Linked DNA regions of Homo sapiens: regions 2 and 3 are each linked to region 1. The links come from fine-mapping of genetic effects on gene expression. A gene starts in region 1. Each other region holds a variant in brackets. All regions are shown on one strand. Distances are between the middles of the regions. Region 1 holds the start of RAB44 (RAB44, member RAS oncogene family). Region 2 overlaps CPNE5 (copine 5). Region 3 overlaps RAB44 (RAB44, member RAS oncogene family).

Region 1 (6,282 bases):
TAATTGACTCACAGTTCCATATGGCTGGGGAGGCCTCAGGAGACTTACAATCATGGCGGAAGGTGAGGGGAAGCAAGGACCTTCTTCACATGGCAGCAGGGGAGGAAAGTATATAAGCACAGGAAAAACTGCCATTTATAAAACCATCAGCTCTCTTGAGAATTCACTCACTGTTACGAGAACAGCATGGGGGAAACTGCCCCCATAATCCAATCACTTCCTTCCTTTGACACATAGGGAGTATAATTCAAGATGAGATTTGGGTGAGGACATAAAACTTAACTATATCACGGCCCTTATCTATTGCATATATTTCATACACACACATACACTTTTTTCTTCATAAAAAGCACACTATCCTCACTGTTCTGCACCTTACTTTTTTCATATGACACAATATCTTGAAGGTCATTCCATATCACTCCACCTGGATCTTTCTCATTTTCTTCACGGTGCAGAGTATGCCAATGTTCGGATGTATCAGAGCTCATTTAACCAGCTCCCTACTGATGGAAATTTAGATCATTTCCAATCCTTTGCTACCACAGACAATACTGTAATGAGTATCCTTCCATACTGTCATATTGTATATCATCTGTGGAATCAATGACTGAAAGTGAAATTGCTGGGTAGAAAGATTTTTGCATTTTAAATGTTGACAGATATTATACACTTCTTTTCATAAAAGTTGTACCAGTTTATATTCCTGCCAATAATGTGTGAATGTGTTTCCTACATCCTTTATGACATAATATATCACTTTTTGGATCTTACTAATTGAATAGCTGAAAATGATGTCTCGGTGTAGTTTTATTTTTTATTTTTACCCTCATCTTCTTTGTGATGGTACGTAGTTTTATCTTTTATTTCTCTTATTATATTTTTATAAACAGAAATGTTTACTTTTATAAATATTTTTCATATGTTTAAATCCATTGATATTTATTTTTCCATGAATTGTTTATTCACATATGGTGCCAATTTCTCTAATGCATTATTGGTCTTTCATTGATCTGCAGGAGTTCTTTACAGAGGGAGGAAATTAACTTATTTTCTATGATACGTAAGTATTTTTTCAGAGTTTGCCTTTTGACTTATCAGTGGTGACCTTTTTTTGCCATTCAGTTTTATTTATTTTTAAAAAGTTTCCGTATGGTTGAATGGCTCAATATTTTCTTTTGTGGCTTCTAATGCTTTGTGATATATCTGGAAAGGCCTTGCCTAATCCAAGATTATTTAAAAATTATCCCATGATCTCTTTCTTCCTTTTTTTCTTCTTTCTCTTCTTCTTCTTCTTCTTCCTCCTCCTCCTCCTTCTTCTTCTCCTTCTTTATTATTATTATTTTTTAATGGAGACGGGGTCTCACTATGTTGTCCAGACTGGTCTTGAATTCCTGGGCTCAGGCGATCCTCCTGCCTCAGCCTCTCAGAGTGCTGGGATTACAGGCATGAGCCACCACACCCAGCCTATCCCATGACAGATCTATCTTTCCTTCCTTCCTTCCTCTTTTTTTCTTTCTTTCTTTCTTTCTTTCTTTCTTTCTTTCTTTCTTTCTTTCTTTCTTTCTTTCTTTCTCTTTCTTTCTTTCTTTCTTAGTTTCTTTCTTCTTTCTTTCTTTTTTCTTTCTTCTCTTTCTCTCTCTTTCTTTCTCTCTCTTCTTTCTCTTTCTCTTTCTCTCTCTTCCTTCTTCCTTCCTTCCTCCCTCCCTCCCTCCCTCCCTTCCTTCCCTCCTTCCTTCCTTTTCTTTCCTTCCTTCTTCTGCAACCATGGCAAATGAACTATGCCATGATTTCTTATGGCATTTGTTCAAACATACAGAAAAGCAGAAGAACATAATGAGCCTGCAGTACCCTCATTAACTCCAGCAGGGATCAGAACAGGTCCAGAGCCAGTCTTGTTTCATCTATGTCCTACCTATTCTCCACACTCTTCAATAATTTTGAAGTAAATCCCAAACAACATATAATTATGTGATTTTGATTTTTAAAATGCTTATGTCTTTTATCCATCTGGAATGCTTTTAGAGTTAGAGCTCTTTGTTTTTTGCAGATACCTAGCCCATTCTCCCAACATAGTTTATTGAATAAACCATCTCTTCTCCAATGATTTGAAGTGGTGCCTTTATGATACACTAAATCCCCACAAATATTTGAGTCTATTCCTGTCCCACAAATATTTGAGTCTATTTCATTATTCTGTTCCACTGATTCATCTGTCTATAGTCATGCTCCAATTCCACACTGTTCTGATGGTTGTAGCTCTACAGTGTATTTTGGTATCAGACTAGATTGTTCCCTAAAAGGTGGTTTAGATATAAAGCCTCCCCTGAGGCTCAAAGACACTGTCTGAGAGTGAGGGCCTGAAGTGAGGCAGGATGGGCAGTTCTCCCGGGGCATCCCATACACTTAGCTTCAGCCACGGCTGTGCCCATCAACCTGCTGCTGTCTGGGATAAGGCATTGCCTTGGCAACCAGAGACTGAGGCCCAGTCCTGGCTGTGCCACTAAGGGCTGGGTGATCTTGAGCAGTCCATCTCACTCTTTGGAGCCTCTGCTTAGGAGGGCCTCCCTGCCAGCTCCAGCATTCTCCACTTCAAGACACCAATCAGGGCAGGGATGCCTGGGGGTGCCAGGCAAAATTGTGAAAGGGCCGCCAGTGGTCGCTTCCACAGGAAGTCCTGTAGATGAGCACAGGAGATTGGCTCGCTGGGGAACGGAAAGGGAGATTAAGCAAGACAAGACTGTTAACAGTTCTAGAGCTCGTGGGCTCCGCAGGGCAGCAGTCACCCTACCACCAGGTCCCAGAGCCCAGGGCTGTGTGTTCCACTGGGAGCCTTTGAGAGGTAGGAGCCATCCCAAGGTTGCAATGCTTCTTTTTCTTTGGAAGGATGAGGATGGGGGAGGGAGCTGGGGTCCCTGTTTAACTTCTATGTCAAGGGTGCAAAAGGCAGAGCCCTCTTTTCTCCTGCATTTGGAGCTCTCTGCATGGTCTAAGGGAGGGGATGGGAAAGCACTTGGGCAAGAGGCTGGGGTACATCACTACCCGTAAATGGCTGTGTGACCTAGGGCAAGTCACCTGGTTTCTCAGAGCCTCAGTTTCTCTGTTAGTTAGGAGAGGAGGAGTGAGGATAAGTAGACTGGAACAAGACACTAGGTGGTCTCTCAGGCCCACTGACTTGGACCACTGGGGTTTAGCGACTGTGGCTATTATTTACAGCTATTGAAGCCAGCCAAGTGGAGAGCAGACCCAGTTCTGAGCGCCCTTTGGTGAGACAGTGATGGATACCCGGAGGCCCCAGGCAGGGCCCATGCCAGGTTGTAATCTGCTGCTGCCTGCTGCCCCACCCCACTCTTCTTCTCTGGCTTCCACTTCCTGGTGGGCAGCCTGTGGTGCCTGCTGCCTAACAGAATACCACGGTGGTAGTGGATTCCCGCAGGTGCTTGGGAGTGGGATTCATTTGCTCTCATGTTTGGCTTCAAGTTTTATGCGATTTCTTAGGTGAGGGATGTGGGGAGAGGTGGTCATGCTGAGGGGCTATATGTGTGTCCTAGCCATGAAGGGGTCCCCCACTCTTAAGGACGTGAGGCATGAGGATGCACTAAGGGGAAAGTGGTGGAGGAGAAGGGCGCTGGCAGGGTGGCCCTGCCAGCTGACTCGGAGGGATGTGTGTGCTGGGCGACGGCATTTGCACATGCAGAATGGAATGATGGAATGGCCGTGAGGGGTGCTGTGTCTGACTGAGAGGCTGATGGTGAGGGATTGGAGGGTGAGGATGATGGCCAAGGAGGGTGTGTGTGCGTGCACGTTTGCACGTGTACATTTGTGGATTGACTGAAGGATGTCCTTGCTGTCTCTGAGGGACCAGGCCTGGCCTAGAAGGGACACAGACTGTTTTTAGGTTGTGCTGTCAGGCCGTGGGGGTGCTGTCAGGGATCTGAATGTGAAGGCACGAGGGGTGAGTGCACCATCCCACCTGATGGTGACAAGTGACTGATTTTGAGGTGGCGATGGCTGGAGGGCACCTGCTGCCTTCCTGCCCCAGGCCACCTGTCAGGCAAGGAGCGGGTGGCTGAGTACCCCTCCTGGGAGAGAAGGATTGACTGGCAGAGAGGGCAGATGCTGAGGTGGGGCAGGCGAGGTGTCTGGAAGGTGCTATTTTCTTAAAAAATGCCAGGGGACTGCTGGAAATGGGCTGTGGAGGTGTAGCTTGGCTAGGAACTCCCAGAAAGGAAAGTCAGGAATGCCACATGTCCTAGGATGTGGCTGCAGGGAATTTCTTCCAGGATTCTAACATCCTACACCTGTGGGAGCCCGGCAGGCTGCGATGTGACACTCACATCACAGTGGACTTTGCTTCTGGAGGCTTCTGCACAGGGAATCTTATCTTGCTCCCTTGGCCGTGTTAGCTCCATTGCCGGAAGTACATGAGACATTGGGCGTCACCACAGGAGCCAAGCCTGTCAACGCCCACCCCGTTCCAAAGCCCTTGTCCCACTCAGGGCTACTCCACTGGGTGTTTGTCATCCCCAGAGGGGCCTTCTGCCCAGGGAAGAGCCACCTCTGTAGCCTTGGGGAAGTCCATCCCATGACCAACCAGAAGAGCAGAGTCTGGTGTAGTTCTACCACTGACATCATGGCTGGGGCAGGTCACTCTGCCTCTTGGAACCTCCCTCAGTTTCCTCATCTGTCAAATGGGATCAATTGTATCTGCATGGAACCTGGCTTTTATGTGCCTCAAATAGAATTCACCTTTATCAATATCATCACCACTGTTGTCATTGCTACCTTTACCTGGTAGTCACTGATACCAAGCGCACTCCTAAGTGGCTTTATGTGGATCATATATTCAGCAAATATTTGCAGAGTACCAACTGTGTGCCAAGCGCTGTTCTAGGCTCTTGGGATAGAACAGTGAACAGAATGGTCATCTCCCTACTCACGTGAGGCCTCTATTTCAGCATGAGGAGAAGGAAAATTTACAACAAAAACGAGCAAAAGGCTCTCTATTCTGGGAAGGTGACAAGTGCTAAGAGAAAGTGAAGCTGGAAAGGGAGGTGGGCCATGCTGGGGAATGGGAACTGATGTTTCAACTTTAATTATCTTGCTTAATCCTCGCAGCATCCCCGTGGGAGAGATATTAGTCCTAAGTTTCCAGTGAGGAAACTCAGGCACAGAGATGCTGATTGACTTCCCTAAGGTTGCACAGCCCATGGGCAGCAGAGCTGGGAGAAGCAGAGGTCTGTCTGACTTCACAGCAATGGGACTGGAAGTCACTTTCTCTTGTGAGCCTCCTTTTCTGCATCTCCAGGTCACGAGAGTGGGACTGACCCTCATAGTTCTGAGGCTCAGTGAGTCTTTCTTTTAATTTTACTTTTTTATTTTTTTGAGACAGAATCTCACTCTGTCGCCCAGGCTGGAGTGCAGTGGTGAATCATAGCTCACTGCAGTTTTGACCTCCTGGGCTCAAGTGATCCTCCCATCTCAGCCTCCCAAGTAGCTAGGACTACAGGCACCCCACCATGCCCAGCTAGTTTTATTTTATTTTGTAGAGACAGGGTCTCGCTATGTTGCCCAGGCTGGTCCTGAACTCCTGGGCTCAAGTGATCCTCTCGCCTCAGCCTCCCAAAGTACTGGGATTACAGGCCACCACGCCCAGCTTATTTTGTTGTTGTTGTTTTGTTTATTAATCCCCTTCTATGCTACAGGGAGTCTTTCTTTGAGTGTAACCTGCAAGGCTGGAACTGCCAGGCCAAACCCCATTAGCCACTGAAGAAGGGTCATAGGCCCATGGAGGGAGGGGGCTCCCCTCTTAGGGGGGATGGGGAATGGAGATAGATGGTGTCTTTCTAGGTGTGGAAGGCCTCTAGGCCCAAGAAGGGGTATCTATGTGGTCACTGTTTCCATGGAGCAACATGGGATGAATTAGGGGTGAGAGATACCGCGTGAAGGCCAGTTAGATTAGCATGGGGACTTCCCTATTCTAACCCGTAGAATCTTATTCCTCATTCTTGGCTTTTTTGCCTCCCTGCTTTTTATTAGAAAGACTTTTTTTCTGAGACAGTGTCTCACTCTGTTGCCTAGGCTAGAGTGCAGTGGTGCAATCTTGGCTCACTGCAACCTCTGCCTCTTGGGTTCAAGTGATTGTCCCACCTCAATCTCCCTAATAGCTAGAACTTCAAGCACACGCCACCATGCCTGGCTAATTTTTTGTTTTTGATAGAGATGGAGTTTCATCATGTTGCCCAGGCTGGTCTCAAACTCCTGGCTTCAAGTAATCCACCC
Region 2 (6,282 bases), 51 kb after region 1:
CTTGTCAGGAACAAGGAAGCCAGGGCCAGCTGTGGGCAGGCAGCTTCAGACATGGAGGGGCAGCATCTGTGATCAGGGAAGGGAGTGGATTTCTGGAGCCCCCCTACACACAGCAGGCAGTCTACCTCCACTGAGGCTGAGCCTTAAGTCCCCGGGCTCAGAGGAAGGGAAACGTCCCCCCACCCCCAGCTTGTCACCTCACCCCCAGCCTGATCAGTCCTCTCTCCCACCAGCGGGACCACCTACCAGTGGGAACTCGTGGGACACTCTGCCATCCGGGGGCAGCTTGGCCCCGAAGCCCAGGGCAGGGAACATCTTGTCACTGTCGTAGTGCTGGATGATCTCTCCGACGGCAGTCAGCGCCAGCGCGTAGGCGTTCAGCTGGTAGGGGCTCATGTAGTGCAGGGATGTGGACTGTGAGGGGTTCCCTGTAACACAGGACATGGGAGCCTTTGACCATCTGGACCCTCCAAGTCACCCCGGGTTCAGAATGAAGAAGGGGGTGTCCAAGGGCACCCCTAACTTTTATTAATTCTTGACTCCTCTCTTTCTCTCATACCCCATGTTAAATCCTTCAGCAAAACAGATCTAGAATCCCTCCTCCGCCTCTCCTCCTCCCCATACCACCACCCTCTTGCTTATAGGATGCAGCAGTCTCCTAACTGATCTCCCACTTCCTTCTGCCCCTGTGCCTCCAGCCCATATCCAGCACAGCAGTGACTGAGCCTATCCGCCTCAGAGAGATCATGCCTCTCCTCTGCCCAAAACGCTCAATGCCTCCACCTCCCCCAAAATGAAACCCAAAGTCCTCACAAGAGCCCGCAAGCACTCATGATCTGGCCTCCAGGTCATCTCCTACCCTCCTCCCTGTCACTCGCCAGTCCCAGCCTCACCAGCCCCTCGCCATTCCCACCTCAGGACCTTGGTGATGGCTGTTCCCTCTACCTGGGACACTCTTCCCCAGATGTCCACTCCCTGGCCCGCTCCCTGGCCTCTTCAGGTCTCTGCTCAAGTGTCACCTCCTCAGTGTGATCTTTTCCAAGCAGCCTATTAAAAATTACAGCCTCCCCCAATCCTTCCTATCCTTCTTCCTGGCTTGATTTCCCCCCCCAGAGCCCTCTTCGCTGCCAATATAGTCTGTATTTAACTTATTTGTTCATTGATGGGAGGTAGTACAGCACAGATTGCCAAGGTACCAATCCTGTCTACCTCCTGCTAGTTATGTGATCTTGGGTAAGTTCCTTAACCTTAGCCTTAGTCTCTTCACCTGTAAAATCAGAGCAATAATAGTTCCTACTTCATAGGATTGATGTGAATATTACACAGATGCTATCGATATTATGATAACTATCCTCAGTGTTATTATTACTAAGGCCCCTTCCAGCTCTGATAGCCCAGTGCTCTATGATGCTAGGACTTACAGCTATAAGAGGAGCTCCTGACACCTGTAGAGGGCAAGACCTGGGCATTTTTGATTGGTGCAAAAATTAGCACTGAGCACCCCTAATAGAGCCCAGAGCCCAAGGGAGGTTGTGATGTTTCTAATCATGTAAAGTTGGGCACTGTTATTGCTCCTAGTGACTCAGCCACAGGCTGACACTGGAGAAATTGGGAGGAGGTAAGGAAGCCAGGGCAGCCCCAGCCAGGTAAGGACTGGGGTCCCTGGGCTGGATCCTGCCTCCCTGAACACCACAGAGCTCAGCCTTGGCTCTGATTCTCCACTCCAGCCTGTGGGTTGGACTGCACAGAGGAGCTGGGATTTGATCCCGGGGGGAAACATCTCCAGGGCCCTCCATAGGCCCAGAGTACACACAATCCCATTCCCCCAGGGAGACTGGGTGTTCCTCAAGGACAAGGCTGTGGCTCAGAGCCCAGATTTATGTCAATGGTCCAACCTGGGGATACTACTGCCATCTTGGTTGTATCTTTGGTCCTCCAGACCTAGGTACATCCTCTTTGGTGAGGAAGAGGCCAGAGAGTATGAGGGTCATGGTCCCAGCCAGGGCCAGATGCCACAGCCCTTAAAAGCTCTCTCCTCCCACCCTGCTCCTCTACCCATCCCCCAACTCACCATTGGAGGCAGTGAAATCAATGGCCACAGTGAAGTTGATCTGGGTCCTAGAAGAGGGAGAACAGCAGGGGAGTCACCTGGAGGGAGGCAGGGCTGTGGGAGGGGGGACAGTGCTAGACATTGGCTACCACCCTGGCTCTGCTGCTTGCCAGGTGTGTGGCCTTGGTGAAGTCATTCATCTCTTTCTAGTTCTGGAGAGCTGAGATAGTAATGCCAGCTATGCCCCCCTTACAGGATTAATGAGCATCAGAAGAGTTATGCAGTAGGAAAGCTCTTTGAAGATGATTGTGTTCTGTGTGGGCATGTGGCTATGGTCACTTATTTCCTCCACAAACCCTACCCCCTGGGCCCACCTGTGTAGGCTGGGTGAGGTTGGGTCTCATTGGATTGCTGACTCAAATTTGGAGTGAGATTCAGGACGAAAACTCATTTGACAAAAAAGAGAGTCAAATAGACATTATGCATCTCCTAAAGAAAGAATAGAATACCACCCATGAAGTTGTCTTACCAAAAAATTGAACCTGATTCTGATTGAGGCTCCAGAGCTGTCTAGTTAGTTACAGGAAATAC[A/G]AGGGACAGAGGAACACATTAAATGACACCACAGGAGATGCAGCCAGCAAAATCCAGTCTTTGGGAAACTCTGTAGAAGCACTACCAGAGACAGCAGCAGCACCATCTCCTGGGAATATGCTGGGCCTCTCAGACTCTATCTAGCTCTCCTGAATCTTTTTTTGGAAAAGAGGTCTCGCTCTGTCACCCAGGCTGAAATGCAGTGGCGTGATCACAGCTCACTTCAGCCTCAACCTCCTGGGCTCAAGCAGTTTTCCCACCTCAGCCTCCTAAATAGCTGGGACCACAGGCACGCACCACCACACCTGGCTTTTTTTTTTCTTTTTGCAGAGATGGGGTCTCATTATATTGGCCAACCTGGTCTTGAACTCCTGGGCAAAAGTAATCCTCCTGCCTCAGCCTCCCAAAGTGCTGGGATTACAGGTGTGAGCCACCACATCTGGCTGAATATTAGATTCTCTTGGTGGGGTACAGGAATCTGTGTTAGCAAGCCATTCAGGTGCTTGGGGGGAATGAATAGATGAAAAGAGAATTAAGAGACCAACCCACCAATCACAGCCTATGGCTCTTGCCTGGATTTCTGACTCAAACAAACCAATTTTAAAACTATAAGATAATTGGGGAGATGTAAACATTTACTAGATATTTAGTATTAAGGAATTGTTAATTTTTTAGGTGTGGTTATGGTATTGTGGTTATGTTTGATAAAGAGAGAGTCCTTATGTTTTAGAAAGACATCCTAAAGCATTTGGGGATAAAATATGATGGCTGGGATTTGCTTCAAATTGGATATTGGGAGCCTGAGGTGGGAGGATTGATTGACACTAGGAGTTCAAGGCCAGCCTGAGCAACATAGTGAGACCTCAAAAATAAAAAAAAAAAACCCACTAAAATAAAAAATAATAATAAATGACTGAATGAAGGGTGGAGTGCATGAAACAAGACTGGCTATGATGTGGTAATGGCTGAAGCTGGGTGAAGGGTACTTGCATGTTGATTATACCTTTTCTCCACATTTGCATGTGTTTGACGTTTTCTATAATAAAAAGTTAGGTTTTGAGGATTCAGATTCAGGCTTGAGACTTTCTGAGGGCTTGGCCATTCTAGGTTCTCTGCCGGGTCCAGACAGAACAAAGCTGACAAACACAAGTCCCTGATAAAGTCTAGTCTTATGGTTCTCACACGGCAGTGAGCATAGAATCACTACGGGTGCTTGCTTAAGAAGATTCCAGGGCTCCACCCCAGAAATGCCAATTGAGTTTGTCTGGAGTGGCTCCCAGAATCTACCTCTTGAAAAAATGTCCACTGCCTTCATCCAGGGATTATGAGGACACGAGGCTGGGATAACGCTGGGGAAAACTCTGTTCTAGTAATTCTTAGTTGGGGCTATGGATGATGTAAGATCAGGTAGGCCTCACCTCACTTGCATTTAGCAGAAGGTGCCTATCAGAAACCACAGCTCTATCAGCCCAAGATCCCTGTCACAGACACAGCAGAAGGTCCCTATCAGAAACCACCTGATCACAGCTGAGCTGCTGCTCATGGAACCCTCACTCACCCCCAGGGAAATGTCAAGGACATGGTTAGCAGGAGACCCCAGCCAGGGTCTGCTGGCCACAGACAGTCATCCCCACCTCTTTCTCCTCTTCTGCTGGCTGGGGGCAGAGCATCCAGAGGATTCCAGGCAGTAGGATAGAAGGAGCCGCAAAGCTAGCAAGAACCTGGGTCCCTGAATGACTGCGTGGATCATCTCCCCACCCAACCCTGCCATCCCACAGATGAAAAACAGACCTTTATTGGTATGAAGGCTTGAGGTTAGGGAATTATGTGTTACAGCAGTTGACCTACCATACTCATCTGCTGTTTGTTGTCACCCCCGCTTCAGTGTGGAATGTAGAACGCATGTCTTTGTTAGAGGTAGGGAGACATTTGGAGGGTGAAAGTCCCGCTCCCAGGGCCACTCTTGGGAAGATGATTCTGGCCTGTGGGACTATACTGGAGGGACACTGTTGGACTGGCTCTTCCAAATACAGGGTGAGGGGAAAGGCAGGCCTTGCTCTAACTAGTCCTCCCCTGCCCTGGGTTCTGAAAAGCCTTGGGAAAGGAAGCAATTGGAAAGCAGATCCTCTTGTGGGAAAATTACTCGCAGCAGCCTAGTGTCTCCTGCCTAAGGGTAGAACACAGGCTGCTGAGCAACCAGCTCCTCCTCTGACAGTGGGGCCAAAGTACCCATACCCTTCCTCCTGGGTCCAGGTGGGCAGGTGAGGGAGGCCAGGGAGGAGAGGATCCCTAGACATCAGCTTCCTGCCTGGGCATGCATGCCAGGCTCTCAGTCCCTGGAGCCAGCTCCCTCACTCAGGCTCTCCAGAGAGTTTAAAGAGAGGGCTGGCTCTGGGGCTATAACCTGCCCAGTATGGGTGGCACCAGCTTAGCTCAGCCTCTGAGGGCTCCTTTTCGATGAAACCTCACAGCATCCAGCCCTTTAACTCATCAGTCTCCATCTTCATCCCACCCCACCCGCTAACTGCAAGTCAGGCAGGCTAGACTGATTCATTACTATAGAATGAAAGGCAGCATGTTATGGGAGAAGGAACCCTGCCACCATCTAGGCGTGTGGCTTCAGGCAAGCTCTGTAAAATGGGGATAACTGTTCTGATCCTGCCCACTGTGTTCTGTAAGTTGGGGGTACTATGCAAATGAAAAAAATAAATAGGATGGACTGGGTGTGGTGGCTCATGCCTGTAATCCCAGCACTTTGGGAGGCCGAGGCAGGCGAATCACCTGAGGTCAGGAGTTCGAGACCAGCCTGGCCAAAATGGTGAAAGCCCGTCTCTACTAAAAATACAAAAATTAGCTGGGGGTGGTGGCGCATGCCTGTAGCCCCAGCTACTCTACTTGATAGGCTGAGGCAGGAGAATTGCTTGAACCCAGGAGGCGGAGGTTGCAGTAAGCCGAGATTGTGCCACTGCACTCCAGCCTGAGTGACAGAGCGAGACTCTGTCTCAAAAAATAAATAAAATAAAATAAAATAAAATAAACATAAATAAAAATAAACAGGATGAGGGGTGTTTGAGAGTTACCAGGTGCTATGGACTGTAAGGGGTGGCTGATTAATGGGATTGAGAGGGAAGCAATTTTGATGGGGGAAGAGTGCAAAGGCGGGGTCTGGAGTCAGCCCAGAGGAGGGGCAGGTAAGAGCAGAGGAGCTCCTGAGTGACTGGAGGCAGGGTGTGTGCTCAGTGGGTAGGAGGAGAGCTTGCAGCCTTGAGACTGCAAGCTCAAGGCAGCAGGGAGTGTTGTCATGGGAAAGTGAGTGTGGCTTCCCAGGACCTGACTTCTCCCTCTGCCCTGGAGAACCAGGCAGCCAAGGGTCCACTTGGCTGGGATGAGCCTTTGGCAGTTGCTCCTGCCTGTCTCCTTTCCAGACAGGTGCAGTCACTCACCTGCGGGCTCTTGGCTGCCCACGCCCTGACCTGGCACCTGTCCTGGCAGGCAGCATGCTGGGCAGGCTCTACCCTTAGAGCCAGGCTCTTTCCGTGAGCTGCTGGCTGGGGCCTCCTGGCTCCCCCATCTGTCTGGGCCTAGACACTGTGCCTGGTGGTTCTTTCTGCTCCTTAAACTCATGTTTGACCACCTGCTGG
Region 3 (6,282 bases), 21 kb after region 1:
AGCTACTCAGGAGGCTGAGGCAGGAGAATTGCTTGAACCTGGGAGGCGGATGTTGCAGTGAGCTGAGATCGCGCCACTGCACTCCAGCCTGGGTGACAGAGCAAGACTCTGTCTCAAAAAAAAAAAAAAAAAAAGAGAGAGATAGAAAGGGAGCCCTGCCTGCTAACGTCCCCTCCTAGGACCCCCGGGTCTGTTAGAACCAGTGAGGGAATTGCCCTCACCCACTGGCCCAGGTTTGCTTGCCCCACCCATGGGGTTCTGTGAGGACAAGATTCCTCACGCTTGGCTCCCGGAGGGTGGGGCCAGGTGTTGTGAGGCAGGCAGGGTAGGACTTAGGGTGTAGACTGGTGGGGCAAGGGGGTGGGGAGCTTTGTATTCATTTGGCATCTTGGCCTAGGCTCAGCCCTCTGGCATCCATCCTCATGACTTAATTAAATCCATGTGAAAGCAGCCTTTATTGGGCACCAACCGTGTGGCAGGCCCTGAGCTGGTGCTTTCATCAGGTGTTTCTCATTCCCCAGTGACCTTGCTTGGCAGGTATCAGCCCCCACCCCATTTTACAAATGAGCCCAGAGAGGGCTTGGGACTTGCTGGAGGTCACACAGCCTCAGAGTGAGAGAAGAGAGAGGGCAGATGGAAGCTCTGGGCCATCAGGCTCCCAAATCCCCCCATCCCACTATTACGGAATCATAGAGAGACACAGTGTGGCGGGGGTTCGAGAAGGGAGAGGGCACATCTGGGAATGGTTCCTGGAGGAGGTGGCGTTTTAGTTGCATCTTGTAGGGTGTCAATAGATTTGGCCCAGGTGCCAAAGTCTCTTGGAGCGCTGCAGTGAAAACTGAGGAGTGGGGCTCCCCTTGCTTCTCCATCCCACCTTGTGTCTGACCCTCCCATCTCTGGCTGTCTTCCCCTCCCCAGGCAGATGGAAATCTGGCAACTGTGGGGGCAGCTGCGGCAGGAGGAGCCCCAGCTGGCAGGCAACCTGGCAGGCTTTCTGGCCAAGATGACCAGCCGCCTGCAGGAGGCCCAGGCGGACAAGGAGGCCCTGGAGCTGACCCTGAGGAAGTGAGTGGGGGGCCTGGCCGGGTGTCTGATACGAAGTAGGTGCTCTTCACATTCCAGTGGAATCTGGTTGAATTTCCCCAGCTCCTCCTGCAGCTGGGCCTGTGAGCTGGATAGGGCAGAGCTGCGCTGGAGGAAGAGGTGGCTCAGGGGACCGGGTGGGGAGGACAGAGTTGGTAATGGCAGGAGTGGGAAGGGCAGGGTGTGTCTTGGTACAGGACCCACTGTGACGCCCAACTCCAGGGGGCCTGCTCCCGTAGACTGTAATGCATGTGGTGACCCTGGAGTTGGGTTATAAGGGCAGGAGGACGGTGAAAGAGGGAGTGGGGACTGAGTGATGGGGTGATGGGGACAATGAGACCCTGGCCAGGGGAACTGGTGACGGTTACAAGGGTCGGCGTGGTAGGATCAGCAGGACCAATGTCAAAGTTGTATGGGTCAGGGGGTTGTTACTGGGATGGCTGTTCTCAGGGTGACAGAGGTCAGTGACTGCTGGCAGAGTGAGGAAAGCAATAGGATGGATTCCAAACCCAAGCCCAGACTGCCCCTGCCAGCAGCAGGCTCCCAGAGGTGCTGATGGGCTGCCTGGCCCCAACTCCTGCTCCTCCCAGGCGTGACTCTGACCACCACCGCGAGGTCCAGCAGCTCTATGAGGAGATGGAGCAGCAGATCCGCCAGGAGAAGCAGCAGCTGCAGGCTGAGGTGGGCTCCCGCCGGCAGCCTGCCTCCTTCCCACTGCCCGGGACACCTCTGCTGGCTAAGGAATGGGGCCAGTGACTGGCCAGGGTGGGGAACAGGAGGCTGCTGTAGTGAATCCTCTCCCTGCCCTGAGCAGCTGGTGTTCCCCAGAGAGACGAGGTGGGGAGTGTCGAGCCTGGGCCCCCTTCCCATCTCTGCCAAGTCTCCTTGTTGCCACAATCTAGGCTGGAACTGGAGGAGTTGTCCTGAGAACCCTCCCTGCTGGGGCATCCTGGCCCAGGCACCCCAGGTGGTGGAGGTGGAGTGTGAGAAGGGCTGGCCTGCCTGGCTAGCTCTTAGAGTCTGCAGGGTGAGGGCTGAATCTACCTACTCCACAGAGCGACTCTCGGGGCCTGGCCCTCACCTCCCAGATGCAGGACGTCCTAGAGGCCAAGGAGCGCGAGGTGCAGCGACTAGCTGAGGGCCAGAGGGAGGTGAGTAATAGGGTTTCCCAGAAACCTACTTCCGAACAGGTCTTTAATATCTATGAACCTCAGTTTCCTATCAGAGACATGGAAATCAGAACTCCTGCCTTAGAAGGTACTGTGATGATTAGAGATACTACATGTGAGGGCCTGAGACAGTGCCTGGCACGTAGTAGGTGCTTTGTGCCTCAGTTGTTCCATCTCTGAAACTGACCTAGCTTCCTGCTTAGGGTCAGGTTACTTGCTGCTGCCCGGACACTGCAGGTCTTATAGCCTGTAGTCACTTCCAGGTGGCACTGTGGTTGAGTGTTTGGGTCTGAGACCCTGCCCCATTTTTTTTTTTTTGACACGGAATCATGCTGTCACCCAGGCTGGAGTGCAGTGGCGCAGTCTTGGCTCACTGCAAGCTCCGCCTCAGTTCACCTCAGGAGAATGGTTCACGCCATTCTCCTGCCTCAGCCTCCCGAGTAGCTGGGACTACAGGCGCCCATCACTGCGCCCAGCTAATTTTTTGTATTTTTAGTAGAGATGGGGTTTCACCGTGGTCTCAATCTCCTGACCTTGTGATCAGCGCCCCATTATCTCTTCCTTTCTCAACTTGAAGACCACTGACCTTGGTAAAATTGTGCTCTGCTGTAACCAGGACAAGAAGCATCCCTTCAGCCCGGGACAAGATTCCTCGAGCCGTCCTCACCACGGCCTGGGCTGGCCCTGTTACCAGGTTGATTTCCCAGGTGCCTCTGCTGCTGCTCCTTGGAAATCGAGGCAGGCCCCTCCTGCCAAGTGAAGAGATAGGGCTTTACACATGGGGCCATTTCGTCCTGTCCCCTGTGGATGTGAAGCTTCTCCCCTCCAATCATTTATTCCTTCACCCCACAGCTACTTATCCAGCACCAACTATGTGCCAGACACTGTTCCAGGTCCTGAGGATCATGACAGACACAAACCTCTGCCCACAGAGTTACCATCTAGTCAGGGAGACAGGTGACATAATAACATAGGAAATGGTGATCAGTGCTAAGGAGAATAAAGTAAAACAGGGAAGGGGGATAGAAGAGTCGTAGGAGTTGAAATCGTAGTCAAAGTAAGTTGAGAAGGGAGTCAAGGAAGGCCTGGCTGAGATGATGACATTGGAGCGAAGACCTGGAGAAGTGTGATATGTGGGGGAAGGGCATCCAGGCAGAGGGAACAGCAGGTGCGAAGGCCCTGAGCGGGCATGAGCTGTGGAAGTTCACAGAACAGTAAGCAGAGCTGTGGACTGGAACAGACTGAGGCAACAGCCATAGGAAAGGAGGTGAGGGTCATGAGGGGAGGTGAGGAGGCTGCAGGAGACTGTGCAGTGTCCCGGAGGCCATTGCAAGAGCTTTGCCTTTCCCTTCACTTGGCCAAGCAATGCTCCCTCTCTGGGTCATGAGATTTGCTGTTGGATCAGGAGCCCCCTGTAGACCAGAC[A/G]GGCTCAGGGGCCAGCAGCCACTGTAGGGCGCTGAGTAGAGGAGGGTGGGATTTGGCTTGGGTGTGGGGCCTTTGTGGCGCTGGTGGTTTTTGTTTCTCACACAGTCTCCCTGCCCTCCCCACCCTAGGATTTCCAGTGCCCCTCCTAGATAGGAGCTAATGGAGCTAGTTAGGCCAAGGAGGGATAACCGCCCACCACTACTCTGATTTAAGCTGGGTCTCCAGGAGCCTGGACAGGGGGTGGGGGTCTGTGTCCCACAATGGCCTTGGGAGGCTTTTTGCGCCCTGGAGGGCATCTGGGCTTCTCTCCGCCTCACCCTCCACCCTGCAGCTGGAGGCCCAGCTCTCCCACCTCAGGAGCACACATCAGGAGGCTGCCTCAGAGAACCAGCAGCTGCAGGAGGCCAAGCGTGACCTGGCTGGGCGGCTGGAGGAGGTGCGGGGGCAGCTGCAGGTGACCAGGGGGCGCCTGGACGCCGCCAGGGGCCGGGTGTCCTGGCAGGTGGAGGAGAAACTGAGGCAAGTGGCTGCTATCCCTGGACTGGGGTGGACTCTAAGGGCCTCCTGGAACCAGTGGGGAACTCTGAGTTCTCTAAGGATCTAGCTAGCACACAGTGCACACATAGACTCCTTCCTTAAACCCCACCCTCTGCCAAGCTGGAACTATCACAACCATTTCTCAGATGAGGAAACTGGGGCACAAAAAAGGGAAACACCTGTGCCCAAGGCCACATGGCTAGAAGTAAAACATGCACATGTGTGCATGTACGTGTACACACATACACACACACATACACACACACACATGTCCTAGTGCAGTGCTAGATCCCTAGCAGGCACTCACTCTACTTGTTATAGCTCAGAGAAGTGGGATGGGCCAGAATGATCAAGGAAGGCTTCCTGGAGGAGGTGAGGCTTCATGTGGGTCTTGAGGATGGACAGGATTGGATGAGGAGGAGGAATGGGGAGCACATACCAGGTGAGAAAGATTGCCTGAGCAAGGACTGGGAGGAGACCTGGCCATGGGGAGAGCAAGGGATGGTGAGGGCTGCAGGTGGGATGGGTGTGACACCACCTACCTGCCCCTCCCCGATCTTTGCTTCCCTGCTTCATTTCCAGTTTTCCTGGAGCGGGTGAGAAGACCCCAGACCCTCAGGCTGCCTCCCCTGAGGAGGCCCCCCTGCCTGGGCTATTTGGGGACAACGATGACTGGGACCAGCTACTGAGCAACTTTGGCAGCCCTCCGCACGGAGCCCTGCAGCTCTGCTGGAGCCCGCCCCCGACCCCAAGAGCCACCTCAGGCCCCCAGACACCCCGTGTGGTCAGGCAGATCTCCATCTCGGAGCCACAGGCTTTTCTATTTGGTCAGGAGCCATCTTCAGATCCAGATGGGGCTCCAAGGACCCCACCTGGGGTGACTTTCAGCGCCAAGGACAATAAAGGAGTGGACCCACATGAGCAGGACATTAGAGCAGAGCAGCCTGTTGAACCGCACGACCCGGACCCCAACCAGGAGCCAGGGTCCACACCCGAGGGCCGCCTCCTCTGGGGTCTCTCAGGAAGCCTGGTGGCACCTGCATTCAAAGTGCTCATTCCTTTGGAGGATGGGCCCCCTCCCCCTGCGAACTCTCCCCCTCCCCAGGCCCCAGCTGGGTCCAGCAAACAGATCCAGGCCTCAGACCCAGATGACAAGGGCCCTGGGTCTTGGGCTCCTCCCAGCGGGGCTCAGCCTGGGGCTGGAGCAGGACCCCAGGAACCCACACAAACCCCTCCCACCATGACTGAGCGGGAAACCCAGCCCGGACCCTCACCCACAACTGCCCTCACAGGAGTGGGCCCAGCCAAGCCGCCCAGGCAGAGAGATGCCCTCCAGCAGGACCTGCATGCCACTGGCTCTGAGCCAAGACTGGGGACCCAGAGGGCTAGAGCCCTCACCCTGGGGCCAGCTGAGCCCTTCCAGGGCCTGGAATTTGTGGGTCCGGTGCCCACAGAGAGGCTGGAGCAGGGCCAGGCGGGCCCAGCGGTGCAGGAGGGCCTTCCTGAGGGGCTAAGAGAAGCTCATGGCCAGGTCCTTGGGCTGGGTGAGCTGTCTGCCTTCCCCCACCAGGAGCTGGAAGAGGAACCCAGGTCTGAGGAAGGAAAACAAGAGGGCAGAGGTGGGCAGGACCTCAGTTCAGAGCAGTCAGAGCAGTCGGTTGAGGCTCACGGCCTAGAAACTGCGCATTCGGAACTCCCCCAGCAAGACTCTCTGCTTGTTTCTCTCCCATCTGCCACACCACAGGCTCAGGTGGAAGCAGAAGGCCCCACTCCTGGAAAATCGGCACCTCCAAGGGGCTCTCCTCCCAGGGGGGCTCAGCCTGGGGCTGGAGCAGGACCCCAGGAACCCACGCAAACCCCTCCCACCATGGCTGAGCAGGAAGCCCAACCCAGGCCATCCCTCACGACTGCTCACGCAGAAGAACAAGGCCCGCCTCACTCCAGGGAACCAAGGGCAGAGAGCAGGCTTGAAGATCCAGGAATGGACTCCAGGGAAGCTGGGCTGACCCCATCCCCGGGAGACCCCATGGCTGGAGGGGGACCCCAGGCCAACCCTGATTACCTCTTC

The links.
Region 2: its variant is fine-mapped to the expression of RAB44 in whole blood (INTERVAL, PIP above 0.99).
Region 3: its variant is fine-mapped to the expression of RAB44 in whole blood (INTERVAL, PIP 0.95).

The regions. Positions count from the first base shown.
Region 1 is chr6:36,695,074-36,701,355 of GRCh38, forward strand. It overlaps RAB44 (RAB44, member RAS oncogene family), which reads left to right and starts at 2,753. Exons shown (of 14, transcript NM_001257357.2): 1 at 2,753-2,842.
Region 2 is chr6:36,746,150-36,752,431 of GRCh38, forward strand. CPNE5 (copine 5) reads right to left here. Exons shown (of 21, transcript NM_020939.2): 15 at 2,072-2,118; 16 at 247-428. Among named protein-coding and RNA genes, the nearest start is that of RAB44, 51 kb to the left of the region's middle. The variant A/G (reference allele first, on the strand shown) is at 2,642.
Region 3 is chr6:36,716,355-36,722,636 of GRCh38, forward strand. It overlaps RAB44 (RAB44, member RAS oncogene family), which reads left to right. Exons shown (of 14, transcript NM_001257357.2): 5 at 919-1,065; 6 at 1,674-1,764; 7 at 2,139-2,234; 8 at 4,009-4,196; 9 at 4,797-6,282. Among named protein-coding and RNA genes, the nearest start is that of RAB44, 22 kb to the left of the region's middle. RefSeq lists enhancers at 598-1,099, 3,753-3,932. The variant A/G (reference allele first, on the strand shown) is at 3,678.